Homo sapiens: one gene and its partners. The protein of the gene in region 7 purifies or fractionates together with the protein of the main gene of each other region. This does not show direct contact. Each region holds a gene or a part of one and is shown on either strand. Other genes may lie near its edges.

Region 1 (3,500 bases), on a different chromosome or scaffold from region 7:
CAGCTAATTTTTGTATTTTTAGTAGAGATGAGGTTTTACCATGTTGGCCAGGATGGTTTCGATCTCTTGACCTCGTGATCTGCCCACCTCGGCCTCCCAAAGTGCTGGGATTACAGATGTGAGCCACCGCACCTGGCCAAGTTTTGTATTTTTAGTAGAGACGGGGTTTCACCATGTTGCCTAGGCTGGTCTTGAACTGTTGGGCTCAAGGGATCCACCCGCCTCAGCCCCTCAAAGTGCTGTGATTACAGGCGTGCGCCACTGCCCCCAGCCTACAATGGCTTTTATATTCAGGAAAAATCCAGAGGCGTATATTTTCCAGCCCATGGGTGGGCCTCCTCATTTGGCCAGCGGGTCCCCCCGTTTATACTCTATGTACCTTACTGGAGCCTCTGATTCTGCTTCTGCCTTCTGCTCCAAGCAGTTCAGTCTCCTGTCCTGTACACATCTTGCTCATCCCAGCCTCCCATCCTTTACCCCTCATCATCCTTTGTCCTCTGTTCTGAGTGTCTATATCTCCCCCCGGCCTTTAGGGCTCATTTCAACTCCTAACTTTTTAAAGGAATCTTCTCTGGTGACTTCAGTTAACATTTATTCTGCTTCCAGACCCCCAGAGCCCCTGGTTCTGCTGCCTCTTAGCAGAGTGCCCTTAGTTAATTAACCTCTCTGAGCCTCAGTTTTCTCTTCTGTAAAATGGCAATAATAGTAATGATGATAATAATAATAAAGATAGTGATAACACTCGACCTTCTTACTTTACAGAATTGCTTATGAGGATCAACTGAGACAGACCTTGGACAAGAGCTTTGCACACTAGAAAGTGTGATGTTAATAAAATAGATTTTTGTGATCTCTGCCTATACTATAGGTTTGGCATCATATAATAATATGACTTAGTATTTTTTGTTTGTTTGTTTGTTTTCAGAGTATCTTGTCTTCTCTGGTAATTCTAGCAGTTTTGTGTAAGTTTGTTTCATGGATTTGCTTCCTGACAACATAGGGTGAGTTCTCTGAGAGTGAGGGTGGTGTCTTTTTTTTTTCTTTTTTTCTTTTTTTTTTGAGGCAGAGTTTCCCTCTTGCTGTCCAGGCTGGAGTGCAATGGCACGATCTCAGCTCACTGCAGCCCCCAGCTCCCGGGTTCAAGCGATTCACCTGCCTCTGCCTCCGGAGTAGCAGGGATTATAGGCACCTGCCACCACGCCCGCCTAATTTTGTATTTTTTTAGTAGAGATGGGTTTTTTCCATGTTGGCCGGGCTGGTCTTGAACTCCTGACCTCAAGTGATCCACCTGTCTTGGCCTCCCAAAGTGCTGGGATTACAGGCGTGAACCACCGCACCTGGCCGAGCGTCGTGGTCATGTCTTATTTCTGTGCCTGTGTTGTCCCCCAGCCCACATCCCCTACCCCATCCCTGAGAACAGCACTGGCACAGAATGGCTGATTGAGCTGACTTGGCTGGACCCAACTCACGCAAAGAATGATCAGGAACACAGAACTGATTCTCCAGTAAATTATGGGAAAAAGAAAGGAAAGGAGAACAAGAATTTGAAGGTAAGAAACCCAAGGCTCTGAGAGCCAAAGAATTTGTCCAAGTTCACGGAGCCCATGGGTGGTGCAGCTGGCCCTTAAACGGTGACTCTAAAGTTCTGTTCTCCATCAACACAGAACTGAATGAGTAAATACTGAGTAGTTTATCTGTCGTTCTGACCTTCAAGCCCTTGACAGCCCAGAGAGGAGCCATTACCTTCACGTTCCAGCTGGAGATGGGGTTCTCCCTGTTGTCATAGCAACAGTCCTGTTTCAGGCACTGGGAGGCCCTCTGAGCAACGATGTCCCATCTGTACCCTTCTGCCACGTTGAGGGTGGGGTCGGCCGGATCCAGGATGATGGGCCTGTAACACAGGAAAAGGGTGCCCAGGCTCATAATGGTTTGAAGGCCTTCAAGCCAGAAAAAAACCTTCTCGGCAATTATTTCGTCCAGCCACTGAGAATTGTGATATCCACATCCCGGGGATGTTCAAGAGGGCCCCAAAACACCGCAGGAGAGTAACAGGATGGAGACAATGCTATTTCCAAGAATTCCTATCTGGGCCAGGCACAGTGGCTCACGCCTGTAATCCCAGCACTTTGGGAGGCTGAGGCGGGAGGATCACTTGAGGTCAGGAGTTCAAGACCAGCCTGGCCAACGTGGTGAAACCCTGTCTCTACTAAAAATACAAAAAATTAGCCAGGTGTGGTGGTACGCACCTGTCATCCCAGTTACTCAGAAGGCTGAGGCAGGAGCATTGCTTGAACCCAGGAGGTGGAGGTTGCAGTGAGCCAAGATCATGCCACCACCCTCCAGCCTGGGTGACCGAGTGAGACTGTCTCAAAAAAAAAAAAATTCTTCTTCTTTGGGATAGTGCCTTAAGTGTTTGCAAGGAATTTAGGGGGAGAATGAGGCCCCAAGAGGCATGCTGGAGTAATAACAGATGCCCTTTCAGGCAGGGGGGGCCCTGTACCTTCGGAGCAGGTTTTGCAAGTTTAAGTTTAAGGTTAGAGCTGCTGAATTACTTTGGATAGTAGAAACACCACTGCCACCAACTACTGACATTTATTGAAGCACAAGGCCAAATCCTATGCAGATTAACCTATTTTAATCTTACAGCAATTCTATAAGGTAGGGACTGTTATTTTTATTGTTTATTGTTGTGGTTGTCCCCTTTTTACAGACCTCCCTAAGTTCCTTTTTTTTTTTTTTTTTTTTTTTTTGAGACAGAGTCTCGCTCTGTCGCCCAGGCTGAAGGGCAGTGGTGCAATCTCGGCTCACTGCAACTTCCACCTCCCGGGTTCAGCCAATTCTCTGCCTCGGCCTCCTGAGTAGCTGGGATTACAGGTACCCGCCACCACGCCCAGCTAATTTTTGTATTTTTAGTAGAGATGGGGTTTCACCATCTTGGCCAGGCTGGTCTTGAACTCCTGACCTCGTGATCCACCTGCCTTGGCCTCCCAAAGTGCTGGGATTACAGGCATGAGCCACCGGTGCCCGGCCTAGATTGCCCTAAGTTCTTACAGCCAGTAGATGGGGGCTCTTACCCATCTACCTCCTCAACAGAGCAGAGGTTGGGCTGCCCCCAAAAGTCTCTCCTTTCTATAAATATTGAATAAATATTTTAAAGAATATTGGCTTGAAGGGGATCTTGGGCTTGCTTATTAACTTGGGGTGACTGCAAGTCCATGATTAACACCAGCTCTTTGAGTGGGGCGCAGTGGCTCACGCCTATAATCCCAGCATTTTGTGGGGCCGAGGTGGGCAGATCACTTGAGGTCAGGAGTTCAAGACCAGGCTGGCCAACATGGTGAAACCGTGTCTCTACTAAAAATACAAAAATTAGGGCATGGCGGCAGGCGCCTGTAGTCCCAGTTACTTGGGTGGCTGAGGTGGGAGGATAGCTTGAACCCAGGAGGTGGTGGTTGCAGTGAGCCAAGATCGTGCCACTGAACTCCAGCCTAGGTGACAGA
Region 2 (3,500 bases), on a different chromosome or scaffold from region 7:
AAATGAAAAATTAATTTAATAGGTTAAATTCCATTTTTTCCCATTTTCTTTCAACGGATGAAAGATGATGACTGTAAGGTAAAGGTCAACTATGCAATAATATGGCCTATATATTACCACAAATCAGAGCAAATCGACTAAAGCATATTAATATGATACTTGTATTTTGCTCACTAAGAGTCCAAACCTTAGGTTTTTATCAGCAAAGAAATGTCCAACATATAGACTAACCCTTGTGCTTTTAGATAATTTTCTTATACATATGCTTTACAAAAGCTAACTTTTCCCTTCAAACCAGTGAGAGAAGAAAGTATCACTCTCATTTTACAGGAGTAAAAAACAGGTCAGAAATATTAAAGTTCGCTTTTTAGCTTTATTTTTTATTTATTTATTTTTTTGAGATGGGTCTTACTATGTTACCCATACTGGTTTGAATTTCTGGGCTTAAGCTATCCTCCTGCCTCAGCCTCCCGAGTACCTGGGACCATAGGAGCATGCCACTGTGCCCAGCTTAAGTTAGCTTTTTTTTGAGACGGACCCTTGCTCTGTCGCCCAGGATGGAGTACAGTGGTGCAGTCTCGGCTCACTGCAACCTCCGCCTCCCAGGTTCAAACAATTCTCCTGCCTCAGCCTCCTGAGTAGCTGAGCAGGCACGCGCCATCATACCCGGCTTTTTGTATCTTTTATTTTTGTATTTTTAATAGAGACAGGATTTCACCATCTTGGCCAGGCTGGTCTTGAACTCCTGACCTCGTGATCCACCCACCTCACCCTCCCAGACTGCTAGGATAACAAGCATGAGCCACTGCTCCCAGCCCAGCTTAAATTAGCTTTCTAAGGTTTTTAAATAAGTATCAAAGATCCTCTGGACTGTCTAACTGAACTCAAGACATACCACGCTCAAAATTTCTACCACAGATAGCATGTCCTACAAAAGGTCCGGGCACATCTGGTCTGACATGTGACTAGGTATATGGCCAGGTATTGGTATGAATCTTGAGCCTGAGGACGACCCCCGACCCAATTCAGCAAGAAGTGCTCTACTGATGTCAAGTAGAACAAAGTCAACAAAAATGAAGTTTGGGATTTAAATTTTAATTTTTTAACTTTTTTTTTTTTTTTTTTTGAGATAGAGTTTCACTCTTGTTGCCCAGGCTGGAGTGCAATGGAGCAATCTTGGCTCACTGCAACCTCTGCCTCCCGGGTTCAAGCGATTCTCCTGCCTCAGCCTCTTGAGTAGCTGGGATTACAGGCATGTGCCACCACACCCAGCTAATTTTGTATTTTTAGTAGAGATGGGGTTTTCCATGTTGGTCAGGCTGGTCTCAAACTCCCGACCTCAGGTGATCCATCCGTCTTGGCCTCCCAAAGTTCTGGGATTACAGGCGTGAGCCACCGTGCCCAGCCAATTTTTTTTTTCTATAAAAAACAAAAAGCCTCTCATTAAGACTAAGTGATTTTTCTCACCTTGTTTCAGAAGGATTTTGTTTAACCAGAAATTTCTTATTTGGCATTCCCATTTCAGCAGCTCTAACACAATATAAAAATAAGGACATAATGTATTTAGAGAAGGGAAGAAAACATGCTTACAAATGTAATACAGGATGACAGAAACAAATCATCATTTAGAAGCTGGTGTACTACTGGAAGACCTGTACTAAGCATATTAAAGACTGCATTCAAGAAAGAAGAATTTTTTAAAAAAGTTATTAAGATATTTTTCCCATTAAGTCTTTATTCCCAAGAAACCTTTAGGACATCAGAAAAGGAATATATTTAGGCACTGAATATAAAGATTAACTGTTTTTAAGATTAACCAGCTATCAGTTATATGAGTTGAATGTTGTCAAATTTAGTAAATAAATTCATCTAAGATGAAATGAGATTTTAGCACCTGATTTTAATAAATTTCTTTATATAAAGGGGATTTCTATCAGCTCAACTGCAGAAAAATTAACTCTTTATTTCTAAATTTAAATATGCAAATAGACCAACAGATGACTAAAATTAATTGGTTTGATAACTAACATGACATGATACAAAAAACTTACTTCATGTATTTCTTCCTATCAAGAGACTTCTGTGTTGCAGCTGAAAGAGCCACTCGTGGACTTTTCATTTTATCCTTTAATATACAAAAGTAACGTCAAACTCTACTGGAACCAATTAATACCACTATATTATAATGTATTATAATCCCACATTGCCTGGAAAAGCTTCTCTCTACTAACATTTTTAATTTAGTTAAATCATCTTGTTTTGTATTTTTGAAGCAGTCTAATTCTAAGAATTAAATAATTAGAATTATGTAAATTTTGCTTGCTTTTCCTTTGCCAATCACACTAAGATAACTGATTCAAATCACATACTCTGATATACTTCAAATTAACTTGGAGCCTGTTTTCTAACTCAGATTTCAAAAAAAGCAAAACCCACATTATAATTGAATTCAAGGAAATTCAATCAGGAGCAGCTGATAGATTGTATAAGCCATCTGAGCAAAACATTCAAAGCTTCAACTCTAAAATCCAATAAGAAAACAATATGTAATTCTTAAATGATGTAATTCTTTTAAATCTGTCTACAGATTTAAATGCTGCTAGTAATTCCAGGAATTACTTGTGCTTAAGAATTATCAGAAGAAGGGTGCTGAAGTCAACCAAAACTGACATTTAGTATCAATTACCCTAAACCCAGAAGAACTCTATTCATTAGAAATCATATAACATACCATTTGCCTGAGCATTTTCTCTTTGCGAACTTCTCGATCATGATGTAGAATAGACATTCTTTCAGCTGCATCCATTACAAAGAATATGTCATGAATACCGTACAAGGCAGCTCGCAACTAGGCACAAGAGAAGAAAATATTGTATACATTTAAAAGATGAGGTTAGAGTTCAGGAATACTATATACCATGTACACTTATTTATAGAAAAAGATTAAAATAGTTTTCATTGAAACCTATTTTCAGTGATTAAATAAAAAAGGAGAAATATAATATGTCCATGTCTTAAAAGCCTTCAGGATCCATGTATTTACCTGAGCTAACACTCTTTCCTGAAGTGAAGCATCTTGAGCTGAAACAATGCCTCTCTTTAATGGTGCTTCTGACTGAAAACTTCTTATGAATTCCATAGTATCCTGAAAAAAGAAATGCTCCTTCAAAAACATTTTTCTAGAAAGATTTGTGATCACTGGAGTTTGCTTTTTTCTTTTTCTCAGTCAATCCAAAATTACAGTCTTTCGTCAGTATCTGTGGGGGACTGGTTCCATGAATCCCTCAGATACCAAAATCCAAGGATGCTGGAGTCCCTTATATAAAATAGTTATCTGCATATAACCTAAGCACATCTCCCATATACTTTAAATCATCTCTAGATTAGTTAAAATACCTAATAAATGTACATGCTATGTAAATAGTTGTTATATTGTTTAGGAAATAATGACAAGGAAAAAAAATTTGTACATGTTCAGTACAGACACAACCATCATTTGT
Region 3 (2,339 bases), on a different chromosome or scaffold from region 7:
CTGCCTGGACTGTGCCCCCTGCCTGGCAGCCCTTCGGATGTTTCTGTTCACACCTTGATATGCAGCTCTGGCACTGCCACCTCCTCCAGGAAGCCCCCCAGGCTGCTTCCCCATCCCCATCCCCTTCCTCAAGGAGTCCCTGAGCCAGCAGGGACAGTTCTAGGAAACGTCTGGGGCGAGTCCATTTTCCAGATGAGGAAACTGAGGCACGGAGATGAATAACAACCTGCCCAGGGCCACCCTGATGGGGCCGGGTTAGAACCCACAGCCACGAGCATCCAGGAGAGAGACCCCCTGCAACCTGGGCCCCCATCCCCCGCTCCGACTCCCCCCATCCTGAGTTTGGGGCTCGGGGACTTGAACCCAGGGGACCTCTCCCTGGTTCCCTCCCTATATGGGAAGGACAGACAGGAGCCAGGGGGAGTTTCAACGTTTATTGAGGTCACGGTGGGCAGTTCCCCCTCCCCTCCCTATATGGGAAGGACAGACAGGAGCCAGGGGGAGTTTCAACGTTTATTGAGGTCACGGTGGGGTGAGGTGCAGGGCCGGCCTGTCTCCCGGAGCCCCGTGGGAGGGAGTGTGGGGGGACGGGTGGGGCCGTCCCGGACGCCACAGTGTTCGGGGAAGAGCTGCTTCTGTCCAAAGATCCGCCTCGAGGGTTTGGAGCCAGGCTCGGGGTCCCGGCCAGCGCTGTGGGAGGGGCGGTTCAGGGGCGGCCCTTGGCCTCCACACGGCGCAGCGTGGAACGGATCCAGTCCACGTAGAGGGCTACCCGCGTGAAGAAGTCAGGGAAAAGGCGGGTGGCACATCCCCAGATCACGAAGGAGTCTATTCCTTGGATGATGCCATCACAGATCAGGGGGCCACCTGAGTCTCCCTGGAGGACAGGGACGGCCAGTCACCCATCAGGGGCCACCTGAGTCTCCCTGGAGGATGGGGACGGCCAGTCACCCATCAGGGGCCACCTGAGTCTCCCGGGAGGATGGGGACAGCCAGTCACCCGGGCTGGCCCCAGGCAGCCAGGAAGGGGGCTGGGGTAGCCACAGCTGTTTCAGAATAAAATGCTTCCAATATGGAACTTTCTTTCTTTCTTTCTCTCTCTCTCTCTCTCTCTCTCTCTTTCTTTTTCTTTCTTTCTTTCTTTCTTTCTCTCTTTTTCTTTCTTTCTTCTTTCTTTCTCTCTCTATCTCTTTCTTTCTTTCTCCTTTTGTTTTGTTTTGTTTTGTTTTTGTTTTGTTTGCGACAGAGTCTCGCTCTGTCACCCAGGCTGGAGTGCAGTGCCGTGATCTCGGCTCACTGCAACCTCTGCCTCCCGGGTTCAAGTGATTCTCCTGCCTCGGCCTCCCGAGTAGCTGGCTGTCTTTCTCTCGAGACAGGGTCTCGCTCTGTTCTCCAGGCTGGAGTGCAGTGGCACAATCATAGCTCACTGCAACCTCGAACTCCCCAGGCTCAAGTGATCCTCCTGCCTTAGCCTCCTGAGTAGCTGGGCCTACAGGCTCACATCACCATGCCCAGCTAATATTTAAATTATTTGTAGAGATGCCACCCTGCTATGTTGCCCAGGCTGGTCTTGAACTCCTGGACTCAAAAGATCCTTCCGCTTTGGCCTCCCAAAGTGCTGAGATTACAGGCGTGAGCCACCACTGCTGGCCTGGAATTTTCTTTAAAATGTGTGAGCACCAGCCAGGCATCACTTGATGCCAGGAGTTCAAGACCAGCCTGGTCAACATGGAGAAACCTCATCTCTACTAAAAATACCAAAAAAATTAGCCAGGCACGGTGGCAGGTACCTGTGCACCTAGTTACTCAGGAGGCTGAGGCAGGAGAATACCTTGAACCTGGGAGGTGGAGGTTGCAGTGAGCTGAGATCTCACCACTGCACTCCAGCCTGGACAACAGAGCGACACTCCGTCTCAAAAACAAACAAAAAGTGTGAGCAGGGAGGGGCTGAGGTCTTTCGTAGGAACTGGGCATTTATGGGCCTCCCGCTGGATACCTGGAGTCCTGGATTCTGGAAGGGGCCGCCGGTGAGGGCGGATGGGTCTCCCACACCTTCCTGTGGTCCTAGAGGGGAGTGGGGGGCAGGGAACCCCCAGACCCACCCAAGCAGCCAGGTGCAATGTGAGCGCCCCCACCCCGCTGAGCCTGCCCGTTGGGTGTTGGGTGTGCCCACCTTCCAGGTGGGGAGACTGAGGCACAGCATGAAGCCACACAGCTAAGAGGTGGCGTGGAACCCTGGCCGCCGCCCTCCTCCCCTCATGGCAGCCCGGTGCCCGGGGTGGGGGCACGGTTACTTACGAAGCAGATGCCGGCCTTGCGGCGAGGGACGAAAGTGCAAA
Region 4 (3,500 bases), on a different chromosome or scaffold from region 7:
ATTTTTATAAAAGTCAATGCATATAGCACCTGTTGGGTTATTTTGTATAATTAAAATGTACCCTAAAAAAAATCCCACCTTAGCCAGGTGTGGTAGCTCACGCCTGTAATCCCAGCACTTTGGGAGGCTGAGGCAGGCGGATCAGCTGAGGTCAGGAGTTCAAGACCAGCCTGGCCAACATGGTGAAACCACGTTGGTAGGCGCCTGCAATCCCAGCTACTGGGGAGGCTGAGGCAGGAGAATCGCTAGCACCTAGGAGCAGGAGGCTGCAGTGAGAGCCGATCGTGCCACTGCACTCTAGCCTGGGCAACAGAATGAGACTGCATCTCAAAACAAAACAAAAACCAAAAAATTCACTTAGTATTGTTATAATCTGGAGTTTAATTTAGTATTTCTGTGTTTATCTCATACTCACACCTGTTCCTCAAGGCTAAGAACTTGTCTAAAATGCTGCATGTTCTCTTTATGTAAGTTTTAATGTTGAAGTAGTAGGATAGTATTCACCTATTTCTATTTGAAGGAAAACCCCAGAGAACATTTTATTTCCTTTGTTATGTTTCTCAAGGTTAAAAGGTTATATAGTAAGGTATAAGATAGTTTCATAGAAAATCAAGGAAATTTGTGGATCTTTAAGGCCATCAGTAATTGTATTTTATCTTATTTTATTTTTGAGACAGAGTCTCCCTCTGGCTTCCACGCTGGAGTGCAGTGGTGCAGTCTTGGCTCACTGCAATCTCCACCTCCCGGATTCAAGCGGTTCTCCTGTCTGAGCCTCCCGAATAACTAGGATTACAGGGGTGCACCACCATTCCCTGCTGATTTTTGTATTTTTAGTAGAGATGGGGTTTCACCATGTTGGCCAGGCTGATCTCGACTTCCTGGCCTCGAGTGATCCACTCGCCTTGGCCTCTCAAAGTGTTGGGATTACAGGCGTGAGCCACTACACTAGGCCTATTTTTACACATTATTTTATAATATAAATATATTTAATGTTACATATTATATAAATATAAATAAATATGTATTCATTATATGTGTCTTTTCAATTTGTTGAGACTTTTTGACAACCTTGAAACTGGTGTATTCATTTTCACTTTTAAGGCATTACAGGCATGAGCCACTGCACCCGGGCCTATTTTTACACATTGTGTTACAGGTGTATTTAATGTTACATATTATATAATTATAAATAAATATGTATTCATTATATATATCTTTTCAATTTATTCTTGTTGGCAACCTTGAAACTAGTGTATTCATTTTCACTTTTCTTTTTTTTTTTTTTGAGACGGAGTTGCTATGTCACCCAGGCTGGAGTGCAGTGCCGCTCTCAGCTCATTGTAACCTCTGCCTCCCAGGTTCAAGTGATTCTCCTGCCTCAGCCTCCTGAGTAGCTGGGATTACAGGTGCCCGCCACCACACCTGGCTAATTTTTGTATTTTTAATAGAAACGGGGTTTCACCATGTTGGCCAGGCTGGTCTCGAACCTGCCTCGGCCTCCCAAAGTGTTGGAATTACAGGCATGAGCCACCACCCAGCATCATTTTTCATTTTTTAAGTATGTTTATTGATTTTTTTTCCTTGGCATTTTGACATTGACAGTAAAGAAGAGATGTAAACAATGTTTTGGGGGCTTTGCCTATTCACCCATATTTGCATTCTGTATCTTAACAAAGATAGTGGTTCTCAGCCACTTTTTTGCCTTTCTACCCAAGGAATACAAAATACTTCCAACAGTAGTAGTGGCTTATTACCACAGAGATTCTCAACAAGACTGGTAGGGAAAGACAGGGAGAAATAATTGTAATTGGCAAAATACCATATGGACTTTGGTTATTTTTGTAATATATAGTATTTTTATCTATAATATTGACCATAAGTTTATAAATATATTCCCTAAATATTCTTTAGTTTGCTAGCAGAACCGAAACCTTTGTCATTCTAATTTTTTTAGCTTTGCTCCAATGTTATAGCTTTGGTTTTTCTAATTTTACTGTTCGGGCTAGTATGTTTGCTTGCATTTATTTATTTATTTATTTATTTATTTATTTATTTATTTATTTATTTTTTGAGACAGAGTCTCGCTCTGTTGCCCAGGCTGGAGTGCAGTGGCACGATCTTGGCTCACTGCAAGCTCCGCCTCCCAGGTTCATGCCATTCTCCTGCCTCAGCCTCCCAAGTAGCTGGGACTACAGGCACCCACCACCACGCCCGGCAAATTTTTTAATATTTTTAGTAGAGACGGGGTTTCACCGTGTTAGCTAGGATGGTCTCGATCTTCTGACCTTGTGATCCGCCCACCTCGGCCTCCCAAAGTGCTGGGATTACAGGCATGAGCCACTGCACCCAGCCTGCTTTTATTTATTAAACGTGTCGGAACAATTTTTTTATATATCAACTTGTTTTGCCATACTAACAAATAATTGTGTTCATTATTTTTGTTTTCTTCTAGTTTGTGCATATATATTGCAGTTTTTACAGAATTATATCAAATAAGTTTTATTTTACTTTTATAGCATTGTATTTTTCCATGTTGTATAACCTTTATGATATTTGATTGTTACTTGATAGTTGAAAAATAAGTATTAAATTTGTTCTAAATGCCTGACAGGAAAATAATAGTTTTCAGTTTATGCCTATTTTGACATTGAATTGAACATCTCTGTGCATTTTTTCTTTTATGAATTGTTTCTATAGGATACTAATCTCAAATGAATTACTAGTCAAAGGATATAAATGTTTCTACAGTTGCCAGATTTTTGCCTCCCCAAAGACTTGAGCGAGTTTACACTGTCAGCAGAGCATGAATGCGTTAGCTTTGCCATACTTTTGTGAACTTGGGAGTTATGATTAATGAAGCGTGATTACCTAATTGGGAATTATTTCTGGGAATAAGTTGTATTATTTAGCAGTTTTAAAATTATTTAGTTGGCCATATCATACTATAGTTATTTATCTACCAGTGATCTATGTGATGTGACAAATATTGTGTATTTCATATTTTCTGACATTTTACTGTCTTTGTTTCTTTTAAAGTTTACCAAAACTTTTGACAGACTGGTAACAATAATTCTTAGATTTCATGCAGTTTTATGTGGTTTGTACACTGAGTATTTTAATGCTAGTTTAAGAGTTAATTTCTGGGCTGGGCATGGTGGCTCATGCCTGTAATCCCACCATTTTGGGAGGCCTAGGCAGGTGGATCACCTGAGGTCAGGAGTTCGAGACCAGCCTGGCCAATGTGAGAAAACACCATCTCTACTAAAAATACAAAAATTAGCTGGGCATGATGGCGGGTGCCTGTAATCTCAGCTACTCGGGAGACTGAGGCAGGAGAATTGCTCGAACCTGGGAGGCAGAGGTTGCAGTGAGCCAAGATCACGCCAGTGCACTCTATCCTGGGCAACAGAGCGAGACGGTGTCTCAAAAAAAAAAAAAAAGAGTTACTTTCTGAACTATACATTTCATAGTTCTGTCTTATGAATGTGTCATTATGATTT
Region 5 (3,500 bases), on a different chromosome or scaffold from region 7:
GATTTCATGAGGCACCAGTGTCACATAACAACTTGGGGGCTGGTGCACACGTACTTACCGGTGCATCTGCCACAGGCGAGGTCTGCGTGAACAGTTGGGTATTCAGACTGTCCCCTTCCCAGTGGTGTGAGCAGAAGAAGTTTCCTGATTTATCAGTTGGAGATTCCACCTAAAAGCATATAGAAAGTGCTTTGTTGTTTCTAGAACTTCCTATGAAACATGTACAGTCAGGAGTATATTTCTGGCCAGTCCCTCAAATACTTTTATAAAACTATGTTGCTAACTTACACTATCAGCTCAATTTGCTCTATCTTCTGGATTCAACAAAGAAACACTGATGGCAAATTTGAAATGTGACTAGCTCCAAATTTACTGCCCCTGTAAAGCTCCTACGTTTTCAACCAATGTTCTGATTCTAGGTGTTTATTCTATTAAGAATATATTTTAATGATACACCTAGTAGTGTTGTATCCGTCAAGGATTTTATTTTGGTGACATAAAAGATCTTTTGGTGACAAAAGACTGGTTTTTAATCACATTCTGGTAAAATTCTCCATTACTAAATAATCAAATCAGATTTTTAGCTATAAAAAAAAATACTTATCTTTACATGAAAATAAATTCAAGAAGCACTGTATCTAACCTGGTGGAAAACAGCTGTTGCCAACAAGCTAAAACTTTGATCCTTGCAGGTTAGATTCTCTTTTTTAATTTTAATTTTTATTTTTTTTGAGACGGAGTCTTGCTGTCTCCCAGGCTGGAGTGCAGTGGTACGATCTTGGCTCACTGCAAGATCTGCCTCCCGGGTTCACACCATAATCCTGCTTCAGACTCCTGAGTAGCTGGGACTACAGGCGCCCGCCACCAAACCCAGCTAATTTTTTTGTATTTTTAGTGGATACGGGGTTTCACCATGTTAGCCAGGATGATCTCGAACTCCTGACCTTGTGATCTGCCCACCTCAGCCTCCCAAAGTGCTGGGATTACAGGTATGAGCCACCGCGCCCAGCCTCCCTTTTTTTAATACAATTAATTAAAGATACTATTATTTTAATTTAAATTCCAATTCTTCACATCTAAAAATGAAATATCAACTTTATATAATCAGTAATGTTTAAAAGTACATTAAAAACCTCTTTCCCTCCCTTTTCTTGATACTCTCTAGTATGTTTTCTGTCCAAACATGAAGTAGATAGAGATGGCTTGGCTTCCCAAAGGAAAGGTTGATGATGCCTACAGTCTGGCAGTACCTTTTCGCTGCACCTTGTATGAAAATCTTGCACGAAAAGTCGTGGTGTTGCACAGTGCCAATGGCAGACACATCAAGCTGCACACAAGGAATAAAGGGGGCAGGATTCTCAGCTTGTTGCTTCCAAAGGGTTGCGTGTTTACCTCTTGTTTGATTTTCTTCAGTAAGGGTGGTCCATTTTCTTGAAACTCAGCAACAATTCCAGATTCATCAGATTCCTGTTTGATCACATCCTGCAGATCTTCTACTAGATGAGAGGGTGTCTGAGGCTAAACGGAAGAGTGGGTATTTTTGCATCAGAGAGAACTCCTAATGGGACTAATAAACCAATGAAATCCAAAAACTTTTCTAGAACTTACTAGCATCTTCAGGGGACCGTATTTAATTTCTTGAGCTGCAAGTGCATGTTTGAATGGTGTAGGAGTTCTTGGAGAGCTTTCTAAGATTGACCTTTTGATAGCTGGGGTTCTAAAACTTTAAAAAGAAAACAAGCAGTGGCTCAATACAAAAGAATAAATGTCCCTACATGGCTTTACCTGTTACATTTAACATTTTTCCACTGAATACAATAAACTCTGTTCCGGATATGGAATTGGGGTGTGCTGATTAATCACGTTATTCGTTAAGAAAAAGAGAATATGCATATCACATATTTTCAAATATTTCAAAATATTATACCTCGAAGACTAAAAGCATTAAATGATTTAACATCTTTCCTTAATGGCTCTGAAGACACATGTAGTGCCTATGATCTGTATAAGACTATGAGCATCAAGAAGACCTGATGTCATTTACAAATCAGGTTTCCCTATTCATGAAAACAGAGCCCATACTACAAAACATGTTAAACTTTTAAAATTTACTTTTTGTACTTCGAAATAACAGTGCATTTCTTTTCAAGGTTTCTGATAATTCACACTTTCTCTACCATTTCTCTGAATTGATTAAGGCTTTATTGAATAAAAATGACTGCTTACTCATCCCTTGGCTTCTAATCATATAATATTCCTGGGGATGTCAGAAGAGGTCCTATCTACACATAAATTCAAAAAGAAAAAATAAGATTAAAAAATACAAACTAAAAATAAATAAATAATAAACAAATAAAATTAAATAAAAATACAAACTAGGTAAGAAACCATACTCGTTCTTATTCTGAAGCTTACAATTAGAGAGGAAAGGAGGTTGAAAATCTGGCTTTCATAAGAAGGCCTTATGGAGGGAACAAACAAACCGAATGGAAAAGTTTTATGAAAACTACTTGTGCATATATAGGAAATTTTGGAGTAAGTTACAAAAGGAATCTAGTTTATCTTCCCATCTTCTACCTGTAGGTAGTTGTAATATGCCCAGGACAGATATATTCAATGTGGGAATAGACATGATTATATATAAATGGTCAGTAAAATTATGCACATACAAGTGGATCAGACATCTGGGAACTATATTCCATTAATTAAATATAAGTAAATAAGATAAATCATTTTATTCCTGAACCAAAGACTTACACAGTATTTTCCTTTTGAGTTTTCACAGTCTGGTCTCTATGAAATGGTGTTGTAACAGTCAATTTGTGACCAATGAGGGGGGTGGAAGTTAAAGAAGGCATTTCCAAGTCTGAGTTTTCATGGTTACTGGAAGTGTTTAAGAACTAAATATGGAGAGAAAGAAAAAATACTTAGATTAGATGGTAATTCTTTATTCTCCCCAATTTAAAAATCACACCTAGATAACAAGAATGTTTTCCTGACCCACTATATTAAATAATAAAGATGCTAACAAGCATGTTATATTGACTAGGGTATTGTTTTATTTCAATTGAGCACCCAGGATTTGGGTGTGGTTTCCAAGAAATAAAATTTAGGGTCATTGCTGAAAAACTTGCAAAACTGTGAGAAAATACTCTCAATAAATGACACTTGTCATTAAAGAGAATGAGATGTGTTCTTTATTAACATTTAAAAGGCTTTAGTGATTTTGGGGAAAATAATAGTTAATAATTAATAGTTTCCTTTCATACTTTGTTTTTTCTCTTTAATAATCTATGAACCAAAATTAGTATTACAGAAGGTTTACATTATATGGAAAATTCTTGAATAATAAACTGTGTCTCTCAGAACACTAAAGTTCTGGGAAAAAACTAGGTGTTCCTTAAACAATTCCAAGGTAAAATAAATTTGGGAAACACAACATATCATAATCTCCTCCTGGAAATTCACAAGGCACAACGGCATATTAATAACTCTGAGAA
Region 6 (3,500 bases), on a different chromosome or scaffold from region 7:
GGGAGTTTGAGACCAGCCTGGCCAACGTGGTGAAACCCCATCTCTACTAAAAATACAACAATTTAGCCAGGCATGGTGGCGCGTGCCTGTAGTACCAGCTATGTAGGAGGCTGAGGCAGGAGAATCGCTTGAACCCAGGAGGCAGAGATTGCAGTGAGCTGAGATCGCACCACTGCACTCCGGCCTGGGTGACAGAGCGAGACTCCATCTCAAAAACAAACAAACGAACACCAATATAGATTTCTTATATTGGCATCCTGCTAAATACTCTTCACATTCTCTGTTCCCACGTGAAGCCTGGGACTTTGAAGGCATTGCTACTGCTCTGAATTGAAAGCTTCCACTTACAGCTTTCTGCTGGAAAGATCCCCGCCAGCTGCCACCCTTAGCTGGGAATGGGAGCCTGCTCCTCTGGGTTCAGTGCACCAGCCCTGGATCCGCACTTCCCAGCCCTTCGCTGGCGGTTCAAGACTGTGGTTTTCAGGCTGCTGCAGTGGTGGTCGGCGTCTTCCAGTCACAGCTTGTGATCGGAATCTCTGTCCCTACACTACTTCTGGGTGTACACACCTTCTTCCCTGGGTCTGGAAACCTCTCTCTTGGCTTCGGAGGAATTCACTAGGCACCCACAACCCACCCTCAGTGTCATTAGTCATCACTTGTCACGCAAGTTCTTTGAACGCTGTTAGTGCCAGCTTTTTCTCTCAAGGATCCTTGGCTTCAAACACATTTAAATACCCTCTCCCCTTCATGCCTCTCATTTTCCAAAGCCTTCTTCCCAGGATAGCCCTCTCCTTTGAGTCCCACCTTCAAGATCTTCGCATAATTGAACTTAAAAAATTCCCTCTTTCAGAACACCTTGCTGAATAGACTAGACTAGGCTTCTTTTTATGATTTGAGTATTACAACAATTGAGTGCCTTCCTTTCTGGAAAAGGCTAACAAAGCGAGTTTTTCTAAGGAAAGAAGAGAATGAAAATCGCGTTCTAAACTTTTGTGCACTTCTGATTGCTTGCTTGTGAATCACAGGGAAGCCGTGCAGAGATGGGAAGCCCAACCTCCCTTGCCTGTATCTGGTGACAGGTTCTGTAACAGTTGTCAAAGTGGGGGGAAAAAAACGACAATCGTACAACTCAAGCAAAATACGCTGCTTCACAAATTGTAAAGTCCAAGGACACTGTCAACAGGTCAAATACTGCCCTGCTTGTTTCTATTACAAAAAACTTTTACATACTAAGAGATGATTCCAATTTAAAGCACATTTCTAACTTCTCTGAGCATTTTTTTCTTTAAACATCATTTGTGTTAATTTCATCCCCAATGCACAGATAGAACAGAAGCCAGGTGTGGTGGCTCATGCCTGTAATCCCAGTACTTAGGGTGGCTGAGGCGGGCAGATCACTTCAGGTCAGGAGTTTGAGACCCAGCCTGGCCAACATGGTGAAAGCCCGTCTCCACTAAAAAATACAAAAATTAGCCGGGCGTGGTGGCACATGCCTACAATCCCAGCTTCTCAGGAGGCTGAGGTAGGAGAACCACTGGAACCCCGGAGGCAGAGGTTGCAGTGAGCCGAGATCACGCCAGTGCACTCCAGCCTGGGCAGCAGAGCGAGACTCCAGCCTCAACACCCCCGACAAAAAAAAGAGACACTATCCCAGTTGTCAAGCTGCCTCATAAAATGAGCTAAAATGAGACTGCAGTCTAGAATTTATCAAATTTACTCATAATCCTAGGCAGAGGGCAATATGTTCCTCATGTTAGCAGCCCACTCAATGTTATTTTGTTCCATGTGGAAAACTGCCTGAAAATGCTTCAAAAAATTCATCCCACTTAAATATCCCTATTACCATTTCTTCCATAGATAACAGAAGAAAACTTGTTTCAGATCATCAAGATTTGCATGTCACTTGATTGGCAATCTGTATTTTACAAGCCATATTGCTGAATTATAAACACGCATTTAAATACTCATGTAAAGCTGACCACGAACTTCTTAGAAAGGGACATATCCACGTGTCAACCTCTAAATAACTGGGTCTCTTTTACTGAAACTTGGCAATTTGTCACCTTGGCGTGGTTATCACATAACTTCAGACGTATTCAGTTACAAACAAATGCAAAAAAACTTGGGGCCTCACTCTTTTTTTTTCTGAGATGTGCAGTGGTGCGATCTCAGCTCACTGCAACCTCCGACTCCTGGGTTCAAGCAATTTTCCTGCCTCAGCCTCCTGAGTAGCTGGGATTACAGGCACCTGATACCAAGCCTGGCTAATTTTTGTACATTTAGTAGAGACAGGGTTTCACCATGATGGCCAGGCTGGTCTCAAACTCCTGACCTTGTGATCTGCCCACCTCGGCCTCCCAAAGTGCTGGGATTACAGGTGTGAGCCTCCACGCCTGGCCTCGCTCACTCTTAAAAATGAAAAATGAAAAATGAAAGGGGGTGGGGGAACTTCAATATTCTGCTTTACTATAGCCTCATCTCAAACCATTCCTATGAAGCTCATAATCTTGGAAGCCATTAGTCCTTCTGTATTTGCCTTCCTAACTCTTACTATTCAAAATGATGCTCTTTCGAAAGTTGGCTTGTGGTCTATAAGTTAAAATATAAAGCAAGTAAATCTGAATAGAAATCTTCACTCCTCTTTATCTGCAAATCTCTTAAAATGGAGCAAAATAAAAGCATTCCGATGAGTCCTGCCTCCTGGAACACAGACGATATTTCATCTGAGTTTTCTCCAATTTCTCCTGGGAATATTTTAATGTGACAGTCAGAGCAGGAGAAGGACCCTCACCTTGTTAAATATCAGTGCTGCCCACCTCACTTCCCTTTCACCATACCCCTTCCCTATGAAGTCAGTTGTGTTGAATTTAAATCCATGATCTTGCAGAAAGAAAGAGGATTTTATTTAAATAGATCCTCAGGTCATCTTATAAAAATTCTATTTAATCCATAATATACCCCAAATCTAGTGATGATTATGAAGGGGACCCTTTCAGCGGCAGCCCTCACCTTCCTAACACCGCTGTAATGGGAGGTACATATTGGACATCTGGAGGAAACACCTGCTCCCTACAGAAGGAAGAAGAGCTCTCTCTCAGTCTAGGTGTGGGGGAAGCTGCAGAGGTCTGGGACAATTTCGCTGCGGTGGGATGGAGCGGGCCATCATCCGTAGGTGCCGCTGTCTGCACTCCTGTTTAGGTGCCTCCCCCTTCAGCCAGCTCCCACCTACATCTCAGTACTGTGGTGACCACACAGGCCCATCAATACATTCTTCTTGAATTAAATTCTATTAATCAGGTACTTATTCAATGAACATTTACAAGTACCTACTCAGTTTACACGGCTAGCGGGGCAGAAATAAATAAGACATCCTCTCTGCCCTCAAGGAGTTAGACTCAGCGAGGACAGTCAGACTAACAGAAACAGGGGTGCAGGCAGCACCGGGTCCTGGCTTGACGGAACTGTGTCCAGGCATGGGGAGATTCACTGGGCCTGCATTT
Region 7 (3,500 bases):
AATATTTTTACAACTATATTAAAAATAGAGAAGTGGACAAAGATTTCTACTCAAGAATGCTCACCACAGGGTTATTGATAATAGCAAAGTAAGGGACAAAGAGGAATGGGGGCATGACTAAACTGAGCCATATTCACATAAAAGATATCCTGGAAGCATGTTTAAAAAATGTTTTCGTCCGAGTGCTGTGGCTCACACCCGTAATCCCAGCACTTTGGGAGGCCGAAGCAGGAAGATTGCTTGAGCCCAGGAGTTCGAGACGAGCCTGGGCAACAAAGCGAGACCCTGTCGCTACAATAATAATAATAATAATTATGCAGGTGTGGTGGCGTATGCCTGTAGCCCCAGCTACTTGGGAAGCTGAGATGGGAGGATCACTTGAGCCCAAGAGTTCCAGGCTGCAGTGAGATGTGGTCGCACCACTGCACTCCAGCCTGGGTGACAGATCAAGAATCTGTCTCTTAAAAAAAAAAAAATTAATGCTTTCCAAGAGTAAATATTCATGTGGAAGAATGCCCATTATACGCTGTTTAGTGAAAAGGGCTTAAAAACGACATACTGCAACACTTCATTATTGTTGCATGCATATCTGCAGATGTGCAGAGAAATACTGGAATGGAGAATTAGCCAGACTTTAACCATGTCTGTCCCTCTGTGTGAGATCACAGGTGGTTTGGGGGGTTTGTTGTTGTTTTGTTTTAACATAATACCTTTCCATATTTTCCAAATTCCTTATAATAATCCTGAGTTGTTCTTATAACCAGAGGAGTGGGAAACCCACAGTAAACTGCTTTTTGAAACTAAAATGCTTTCTGGCCCTGAGCACACCTCTCCAGGCATCCCTGCCTCACCCAGGCCCCCGTGGCCTCTTTGACTGTTGACTTCACTTTAAGCAGATGCCCAGGCCCTAGGTCTTCCACCGGGCCCACCGCCCGCCCCTGTGATGGAGCTCCCTACCAGCACCAGGGCGATGCAGTCCTCTGTGGTGGAGGCCGAGGAGCAGGTCACGCTGCCTTCGCTCAAGCCACTCCACTGGTTACACTTGCGCAGCTCCTGCTCGCCCACCGCACACCACACGACCCGCGCACGCCGGGCAGCCACTTCCTCCTCACCTGCCAGAGGGAAGACCGCAGGTGGCTGGGCAACCTGAGCTTTGCCAGGTTGTCCAACCTCCCCAGAGCCAGGGTCCTGCCCAGACTCTCCCTGGAACAGGAGCTACAGTACATGTGTGGACATGTGGACCCATACCCTCTCCTCCTCCACTTCTCAGCTCCAAGCCCCTTCTTCAGGTCCACAGAGCTCCCTGTGTTTCCCACTTCTGTTCCTTTGGAGAAGTTCCCTGGCTTCTAATCTATCCATTAATCTTTAGAGTCAGGAGGCGCCTATTGTCTCTGTCTCTGAGGATAAACGCTCCATGACCCAGAGACCAGTGACAGTCCCAAGAGATGGCCTAGGGGACCTTGAGCCCAACCCTGACTTCCCCTAACGCCTGCAATCACCACCAATAACTACGGTGCAGCCTCTGGGTTCCCCCAGACTCCCACCCCCAGCCCCCCAGTAGAGAAGGAGCCATAGCTGAGTTCCCCCACCATGGTGTCCCCAACTAAGTTCAAGGTCTGGGCCTGGGAAGTGTGGGTAAATCCAGGCCCCCGGATTCATCCAGGAGGGGTCCTGGCTATCTTTGTTCATGTTCATGTTTCTCACTTAATAGGAGGCAAACTGATTTTTCTGCCAGGCCTGGGGAGCCTGACGTGCACTGATCAGGTGGCCAGACTATTCTTTTAGAGACACCTGACCTAATCCACAGAAGACACTCACACCTGCATCAAACCTCCACGATGACCCCACAGTGTCTGGGAAAAGGAGTGACCGCCACAAAGTAGGGCCACCTGCTGGGAAGTAGAAGACCACACCAGGCGGACCTCAGGACCCTCCTGGGCTCACTCACTTTTCCTCAAGTTCTGGATGGCAGTGAAGTAGCCGGAGCCAAGGTACAGCCCAGAATCTATCCTCGGGGGCACCCTCGAAAACCCAATGGCAGAGTCCTTGAACAGCAGATCTTTCTGCCCACTAGGGGAGCCAAAGAGCTGGAATTTCGGTGACTTGTCCTTTCCAAACTTTTCCTAATTAAGAAAAAATAGAATTATGGTGTCAATGGTAAATAGGGAGGAAACAAAAAAATGATGTTAAAAAAGAGTATCTGGAGCTTTGGGATCATTCTAACTGAGAGCAGGAGCCTCGGTTGAGACCCTCCTGCAGAGGGACTTGTGCCATCTCGGAGACCCAAGCTCAGCTATGGCTCATTCTTTGAAGAGTTGCTGAGGTCCAAGCACCTTAGGGCCCTGAGAAGATTGCATCGACCACCCCCTGCTTCTGCTCCCATCATAAGACGCTGTCAGCCCGTGTGACAGAAGAGTTTCATTGCTTCTGCTGTCCACAGTACAGCCTGGGCAAGCAGCCCAATGCATTAGTGTGCTATCCTGCAGCAAAGCTACAGGACTTCTGGAGTGGCAGAAGTCAGGGAAGTAAGAAACCTTGCTCCCTGCCCCCCATATCCAAGCAAGTGGGGAGGACCGTGGGTGAAGATACCTGTGCCTGGCGGAGAAGATTCCAGATGGCATCCTCCTTGCCATTCACACTTCGTGCCACAACGGCATGAGAAGGGACCCGGGCCAGATGGCAGTCTTTGAACTTGTCCACTGGCTTCCGAGTGTTGTCTGGGCAGAGTAACTCATACTCGTCCCTTTCAGCCTCGTCTGACAGGTCCTCTGCAGGGAAGGTGAGGTGGGAGGGAGTCTAGATAAGCCGACTCCAGCAGTAACCTCGAGCTATAGTTCCCCTTCTCCCTATAGAATTTTGAGCTTGGGGAGATAGCTGACAAAACTGAGGGTCAGAAAGGCAGGGGTTTGCTCCAGAACACTCAGAAAGGTAAAGGTAGTGCCCCAAAAGCCTCAGGGGGCAGCCGAGGTGTGATCCTCATCCTAAATCACTTAGGCCACCCTGGGGTTCCCGTGCAGCTGCTGCCTGGCAGGCCAGAGAGGCCAAACCAGACCCGTCTGTTTCTGCGGCATCTCTGCCTGGAAAAGTCACTTTGCAGAGACAAGCTCAGGGGGCCACCAAGGGTTGCTCCCTTACTCACATCTCTGGGAAGAATAAAAATGACAAAAATGTTAACAAGGCAGGGAATAAGGCAGGAAGGTGAGACACTTTCCAACACTGAGTATATCAAAAGAAGGGGAAGAATGGTTTTATGAATGAGTTCAGGCAAATGTGGAATATCATATATAAGTTGCTTCAGAATGTGTAAAGTGAAAAAAATCTTGCCCGAGTCATTTTATGAGATTAGTACAACCTTGATGTCAAAATCAGAAAAAGTATAGGAGGGAAGAATTAAAAGTTTATTTTACTTACGAACATAAATGCAAAATTTGTAAATAACGTACTAACTAACTCAATCTCACAGAGTATTTAAAAAGCTAATAGATTGGAATGAAGGTTTA

What was found.
Region 1: the proteins of LTF (region 7) and OASL purify together in Homo sapiens (pull-down; one large-scale study listed by IntAct). This does not show direct contact.
Region 2: the proteins of LTF (region 7) and CCP110 purify together in Homo sapiens (co-immunoprecipitation; one large-scale study listed by IntAct). This does not show direct contact.
Region 3: the proteins of LTF (region 7) and PRTN3 purify together in Homo sapiens (affinity purification with mass spectrometry, with the first as the bait; one large-scale study listed by BioGRID). This does not show direct contact.
Region 4: the proteins of LTF (region 7) and ATF2 purify together in Homo sapiens (co-immunoprecipitation; one large-scale study listed by IntAct). This does not show direct contact.
Region 5: the proteins of LTF (region 7) and MYB purify together in Homo sapiens (co-immunoprecipitation; one large-scale study listed by IntAct). This does not show direct contact.
Region 6: the proteins of LTF (region 7) and PPARA purify together in Homo sapiens (co-immunoprecipitation; one large-scale study listed by IntAct). This does not show direct contact.

Annotation. Positions count from the first base shown.
Region 1 is NC_000012.12:121,022,247-121,025,746, forward strand, and holds part of OASL (2'-5'-oligoadenylate synthase-like protein), read right to left. Parts: intron 1,892-3,500; coding exon 1,744-1,891; intron 1-1,743.
Region 2 is NC_000016.10:19,544,442-19,547,941, reverse strand, and holds part of CCP110 (centriolar coiled-coil protein of 110 kDa), read right to left. Parts: intron 3,146-3,500; coding exon 3,044-3,145; intron 2,849-3,043; coding exon 2,732-2,848; intron 2,126-2,731; coding exon 2,052-2,125; intron 1,531-2,051; coding exon 1,468-1,530; intron 1-1,467.
Region 3 is NC_000019.10:846,337-848,675, reverse strand, and holds the end of PRTN3 (myeloblastin precursor), read right to left. Parts: coding exon 2,299-2,339; intron 927-2,298; coding exon of another isoform or gene 906-926; exon of another isoform or gene 878-905; coding exon 707-877; 3' UTR 501-706; downstream 1-500. UniProt on the Homo sapiens protein: Serine protease that degrades elastin, fibronectin, laminin, vitronectin, and collagen types I, III, and IV (in vitro).
Region 4 is NC_000002.12:175,161,704-175,165,203, reverse strand, and holds part of ATF2 (cyclic AMP-dependent transcription factor ATF-2), read left to right. Parts: intron 1-3,500. UniProt on the Homo sapiens protein: Transcriptional activator which regulates the transcription of various genes, including those involved in anti-apoptosis, cell growth, and DNA damage response.
Region 5 is NC_000006.12:135,198,308-135,201,807, reverse strand, and holds part of MYB (transcriptional activator Myb), read right to left. Parts: intron 2,901-3,500; coding exon 2,758-2,900; intron 2,283-2,757; exon of another isoform or gene 2,227-2,282; intron 1,724-2,226; coding exon 1,609-1,723; intron 1,519-1,608; coding exon 1,393-1,518; exon of another isoform or gene 1,251-1,392; intron 170-1,250; coding exon 59-169; intron 1-58. UniProt on the Homo sapiens protein: Transcriptional activator; DNA-binding protein that specifically recognize the sequence 5'-YAAC[GT]G-3'. Plays an important role in the control of proliferation and differentiation of hematopoietic progenitor cells.
Region 6 is NC_000022.11:46,157,026-46,160,525, reverse strand, and holds part of PPARA (peroxisome proliferator-activated receptor alpha), read right to left. Parts: intron 1-3,500. UniProt on the Homo sapiens protein: Ligand-activated transcription factor. Key regulator of lipid metabolism. Activated by the endogenous ligand 1-palmitoyl-2-oleoyl-sn-glycerol-3-phosphocholine (16:0/18:1-GPC). Activated by oleylethanolamide, a naturally occurring lipid that regulates satiety.
Region 7 is NC_000003.12:46,447,906-46,451,405, forward strand, and holds part of LTF (lactotransferrin isoform 1 preproprotein), read right to left. Parts: intron 2,769-3,500; coding exon 2,590-2,768; intron 2,124-2,589; coding exon 1,949-2,123; intron 1,113-1,948; coding exon 958-1,112; intron 1-957. UniProt on the Homo sapiens protein: Transferrins are iron binding transport proteins which can bind two Fe(3+) ions in association with the binding of an anion, usually bicarbonate. Lactoferricin binds to the bacterial surface and is crucial for the bactericidal functions.